Linked DNA regions of Homo sapiens: region 2 is linked to region 1. The links come from fine-mapping of genetic effects on gene expression. A gene starts in region 1. The other region holds a variant in brackets. All regions are shown on one strand. Distances are between the middles of the regions. Region 1 holds the start of TMOD2 (tropomodulin 2). Region 2 overlaps DMXL2 (Dmx like 2).

Region 1 (2,914 bases):
AAAATCCTATTCCCCAACCACCTTTCACTCAAAGGTTTTGGACCAGTTGGTAAGTCCTTGCCTTATTCAACTGTTATGTTAGGTTTGCAGAGCGCCGAGTTCCTGATTCTCTCATTCCTTCTATTGCATATTTCTTTTTCAAACAATGATCCATCAGTACGCAACTTCTCTTTTCTGTGTATACACATTCTGGTTACTTCTTGCTGGGGCTTCCTCCCCGACCTCCATGCTGACCACATTTGACCACTCGTGCCCAGCCCTAGGGAGCCACTAATCCTTTATCTGCTGATCCCATCACTTCACCTTCAGCAAATTAAAGACAAAAACAAACCCCATCATTTTGTTGCCCACCAATGTACAGTACCTTACAAAAATTAAAATGATTGCAATGCGTATTTATTGGGTTAGACTGAAGAGAGTCGATCGAGAAAATCAGTTTTATCTTTAAAAAAAAATCAGATTGCTGAAGCTCTGAAAAATCTTTCCTCCTCACTAGGGTAGAGGCGCTTGTTGTCACAATTAGGCTTTTTGTAGTGCTGTTAAACAGAAACACTCTCATCTTTTCAGTTCCCTGAGAGGGGAGAATCTTGGAAGAACAGAGGTTTACAAATCATTTAGCCCAAACGCCCCTTTACATGCAGAGGCCCAGAGAGGTGGAGGGACTTGCCCAGGTCCCTCAGCTCCTGAATGGTCAAGCTAAGAGGAGAACCTGGTTTTTAAAACACCTCCCCCGATCTTCTTTTCATTCCCGTCCTAAATGCCTCGTGATTCAGATATGTAATGGGCACAGACGAAGCTGCAGTAAGCACGGCCTCCTTCACTGCTAATTTGCATTGTGACGGCATCACCTTCCTACCTCTGAATACTCTAAAAATTCCCATTAGAAGCCTTTTATTACTGTTTTAAAAATCCACCTTCATTTCCGCAGGTCAACAGGGAACATTTAGGAAGCCTCAAGGGAGCACATACTACAATTACTTTAACCAGAAAAGTAATAACAATAATAATAAGGTTCTCGAGGATCCGCACGAGGCCGCTTACTGGGAGGCTGAAACGCCCTGCGAGTGACAGCTCCAGCGATCTCAGGAAAGACGCCGGCCAGTCCACCCCTCCCCATCGCCTGCTGAACGAGGCAGGGAGATGCATACCGCTCCAGGAGCTCACCAAACATGCACAGGAAGGGGAAAAGTGGGGGAACAAAGCCCGGAGTGGAAGAACACAGCCCCGCAGCCCGGGAGGACAGGAGACCGCGCCCTCCCCGCTGCGGCCCAGCGGGCTGCAGAGGCTGCGGCACCGCAGTGCGGGGCGCGGGACTCACACCCCGGCGGGCGCCTCCCGCCCGGGCGCAGCGCCTGGTCTCCCGGCGCAGCCGACCGGGCCGGGAGGCGAGAGGCGAGAGGCGGCCCGGCTCTGCACGCCCGCCCGGCCGACCGCCCATGTCGCGGAGCATCCTCCCGCGGGCAGGGAGGGCACGGCGGCCACCGCGCTGCGGGCCCGGGGGCTGCAGACACCGGCTGTCCAGAACAGGCCCCACCCGCCCCCCGGGGCGCTCACCCGTCCGTGCGCTCATCCCGGAGCCGGCTGTGCTGGCCGTCAGTCCGTCAGCCCCGGTGGAGCGGGGCCGGGAGAACAGGGGCGGCGCCGTGGCCGGGGCGAGCGCGGCGATCAACAGGCGGCTCCCGGCCGGGCGCGGCGCCGGGGCGCGCGGCTGCAGCGGAGCAGGCTGGGAAGCGTAGTTCCCGGCTGAGCCTCGCCGCGGCCCCGCAGTCCCCCAGCCCCGCCCTTCCCCGACAGGTGTCCTCTCCCGGAATCGGGGTCTGAACCCCGCCACAGCTCTGCAGGGGAGGAAGCACCTGGGTCGGGGAGAAGCCTGGGCAGGCTCTTTGGAGACGCTCGGGGCTCCGGAGAGCGTGGATGGCAAAGGCTTTCAAGCCTGTGATGAGCATTCCTGTGAGCGAGCATCCTGACACGGAAGCCGCGTTGAGAGCGGTCTCAGGTACAGACCCCGCCCGCCCCAGGTTTTCCTGGCTGGGCGTGGGCGTGGGAGGAGAGAGTAGTTGGGTTGGCAGCCTAGGGAGGGAAGGAGGTAAGCGAGGTGGAAGTTAGCAAGGCTCTAGGGTGATGGCGTGAGGGGCTGGAGAGCCCAAGCGCAGTGGCGGCTTCACTGAGGTGAGACCGGACAACTTAGCCTGTCTGAGCCTTCGCGTCCTCATCTGTAAAACAGGCTTCAAGCTTGAAAAAGTGTTGTGAGGATTAAGCGACCCATAGCACTTAGGATCTGGCACTTAGTGCATACTCAGTGAAAGTTCCTTCCTTGGGGTTTCCGAGGGAGTTCTTGGGCCGGGAAAGTCCTATATGTCGTGCTAACCTAAAGATAGTTGGACCTCGTTGGGCTGGGTAAATGTTAAAATCCACTGGGTTTGTTAGTCGTTGAGCCCGTTCACTTCATCCCTGAATATACCCTGAGATGTTCTGTCTGCCAGGTTCTTGAGAGCTCCAAAGATAGAGAAAATAAAGTCAAGTTTCTGAAGCATGACAGCAGAGTGGGGTGACATAGGACAAAGACCAACATTATGAAAATACATGGCATCTAGATTTAACTTCCAGAGGCCTTTTCTAATTAGATGTGATATCTCTCTCCTTCTTGAACTTTTGCAGCATATTTTGAGCATAACCTTTGCTTATGGGACTTATCTTGGCAGTCTAAGGTTCGTTGAGTTTTGCAAGTTGCTGCTATGCAGTGTTTCACATGATGGTGGGATTTGCATTCACAGATGTAGTGGAGGAAAATGAACCAAAGGGATGGATGCAGCATGGCTGGTGTAATCTCTATATGAAATTTTAGGCAAAATGTGAAAAGAGGTGAAACAGCTTTATAGTCTGTCTGGCACGAGGTGTGCAGTAATCGTGTGGC
Region 2 (2,914 bases), 130 kb after region 1:
AAGGGGGACCAGCCAGGACTTGGAATGAAGGTCTTGTGACTTCTCATTGTGTGGGCTTTTCTTGGTAGTATTTCCTTCTTAATATCAGAGTGCCTGCTCTGGAGAGGGTGTGTGGGTGCGTAGGTGGGTTAGTGGATGGATGGAAGGCCTCCCAGACATAGTGTAGAAGGAACTACTGTCTTGCAACTAACTCATGATTCTTAGCTGATGTTGTGTTTCATGGTAGCCTGAGAACCTTTTCAAAATACAATACATACTTTATTTCAGAGTCTAAAATTGATACATCTTTGAAGAACAGAATTGTTCTAAAAGGATTTTGAGTTTATGACAGTGTAATAATTGAAAGAAATGTGTGTTATATATTTTGCTGTGCATGGTGGGTGGCGTGATTGGTTGGCTGTGAATGACTACTTGATGTCGTGATGTCCCAATTTGTGCAATATTGACATGGTACTGCAGTCTGTAGTGGACAATCTCAGCTGATGTCTGTGGTTTTAGTGGTATCACGTAAGCTATGATGCTTTTCACTTGTGTTTAGGCAGTATACAGCTGTTTCCTTAAACATTCGATTGTGATTTCGTAAATGTAGCTGTAGATATCACATTTTAAAACATCACCTTTTGAACAATTTTGTTCTTTTCAGTGTAAGATCTAGGTTTTCGAAATGTTATCCTGCAATAAGTCAAATCTCTGGTAGTTCAAAGAGATGATCTTCTCCCGTGTATGAGCTTTATTATACTTTATTTTGCCTTTAAGACATTTCTTACTACCCTTCAGTGAATGTTTTGAGGGTTTATGCAACAGATATTGTAAATTTCTCATTATTTATGTTATTACTTTTCTGAAAGATAGTCCTTGGCTATTTTTTAAACTTTACTGCACATATTAAAATATTAATTGAAATAATGATCATACGTGATGATTTTTTAAATTAAAAATTCATTTGGCCTTAAGGCTTGCAGACTATTTTGAGATGTATAGGGGCAGTTACTATTATTCCAGTGTGACATGATTTCAACACATTGATCAAAGTTTACAAAAATTAGTAAGTCATTTGCACTCTTAGGGAATTTATAATATACTGGCAGAGATTAAAATGATTTATATAATTATAACATAAGGCAGATGGAAGAGATTGTAGTTGGGAAAACAAGAAGAGGTTTTATGGAAGAGTAAGGTTTGGAAAGATAAGAACAACAGAAGCAAAGGAATGGCATAATACGAAGGATAAATTATTGAGTGACTGTTTTCTTTGCAAAAGTTACTTTTTAA[T/C]CACAGGACTTCTTCATTAAATAACAGACACTCTTAGAATGTTGAAAAAATATAATATGCAAACATTACCTGTAGCTTTTCAGGAAAACGTACCTGGTATTCTGACATTCAATTTTTTTTTTAAATTAAAATACCAACAAAAGGTTGGAAATAAATGGAAAACCATTCATTTAAAAATTAGAAAATAATGTTGTATAACCTCTTTTATGGCATTTAGATATGTCTTAACTCTATTGTAGAATAAAATTTCAGTCCTAGAGTTATGGTAACACCAAACCTTGAAAATGATCAACCAGTTTATACATTTAGCAAATGTTGAACACATAGGTGTGCTAAGCTTTGTGGGTATTAAAAAAAAAAAAAAAGAATTACAAGACATAGTCTTGATTTCAGGGAGTTTATTGAAGAAGTGTAGGAACCTGGTAGTCTAATACGAGAGTAAAAGACACATACCTAACCACAGTAGGCCAGCTGTGCAATATTACCAGCATTTAAGTGGGAATTCAGGAAGACTAAGAGAACTTTTGGCCAGGGGAATCAAGGGGTTGGTTAGAAACATGCTTCTGTACTGGCTGGTTATTAATGTGTTAACCTGTGCTGAGAGGAAAGTGAAAGACAGAAGTCAAGAATTTAGAATGGACTTGTTTTCTAAGAGAAATTGGCCTTTTTGTTCTTGGAGTGTAGCTTCTTGTTTGTTTAAACGGATACATTTAAAACCTTGTGGGCTTGGGCTTAGTGTCAACCAGTAAGTGAATATAGGGTTTATAAGTTCTTATGTCCCTGCGTAGATTGTTAATTAGCCTTCTTGCTTGTAGCAAGAAGACTCCTAGCAACTACTCAGAAACTCTGGTAAGGTTCTGAATAATGTCTTCCCCAAAAATGGGAGGTCAGAGACCAACTACTTGTATGGTGTTGGTGAAATCACTTAAACATGTTTAGGTCTTTGATCTGTAAAAGAAGTTCTTAAAGATATTCTTTAAGTATTTAGACCACGAATGAAAATTATATGGACTTCTCTAGAGATTTTCAGGGGTCAAAAGAGAAAATGGACTAGAAACATAAAGTGGTTGTGTTGAAGTTGTAGGTCTGGAGTCTTTATCGTATATTGCTTCTCACTTGTATTTACAAGACTTGATCAGATCTCACTTGTATTTACAAGATTTGATCAGACCTCACAGTCGGGGAGTCTGACCTCCTTTCTGGCTCAGTAGATAGGCCATTCAGAGCATTTATGAAGTAGTGGGTCTAGGAATGAGTCTTTGGGCTTACAGCTGAGGAGAAGCCTCTTGATTAGGTTTTGGTCCTTGGCACCTGGCAGATGATAGTTGCCTGCGACTGTCATAGTACAGTATTGGGTGGGAGATGGGACCAGTGTGATGGTGTTTAGGTTCTCCTTTCGCAGCTTTCCTTTTCCCGTGCAATGCCTTTATTTTAGTTTCTGTTCTTAGGATTTGGGCTATTTAAAATATTACTTTAGAAATTATAATCAGATTATCTTAACTTGGATCTTGGTAAATTTTTAGAACAAATCAGAGTCTCAGTATTTAATTATCTGAAAGAGCACAGGATGTTGGGTGACAACCATAATGGCACAGTAGAAAAACAAGTCATGCCTGACCAATTTAATTTCCTTCTGTGAAAC

The links. PIP is the estimated chance that this variant, and not a neighbour inherited with it, causes the effect. A credible set is the group of variants that fine-mapping cannot tell apart.
Region 2: its variant is the best candidate, but not a certain one, in a credible set for the expression of TMOD2 in whole blood (TOPMed, PIP 0.75).

The regions. Positions count from the first base shown.
Region 1 is chr15:51,750,353-51,753,266 of GRCh38, reverse strand. TMOD2 (tropomodulin 2) reads right to left here and starts at 1,670. Exons shown (of 10, transcript NM_014548.4): 1 at 1,555-1,670. It also overlaps a transcript of LYSMD2 not described here. RefSeq lists silencers at 1,257-1,316, 1,347-1,456, 1,507-1,936 and an enhancer at 2,047-2,116.
Region 2 is chr15:51,617,037-51,619,950 of GRCh38, reverse strand. The region is part of intron 1 of DMXL2 (Dmx like 2); the gene reads left to right. Among named protein-coding and RNA genes, the nearest start is that of DMXL2, 4.3 kb to the left of the region's middle. The variant T/C (reference allele first, on the strand shown) is at 1,273.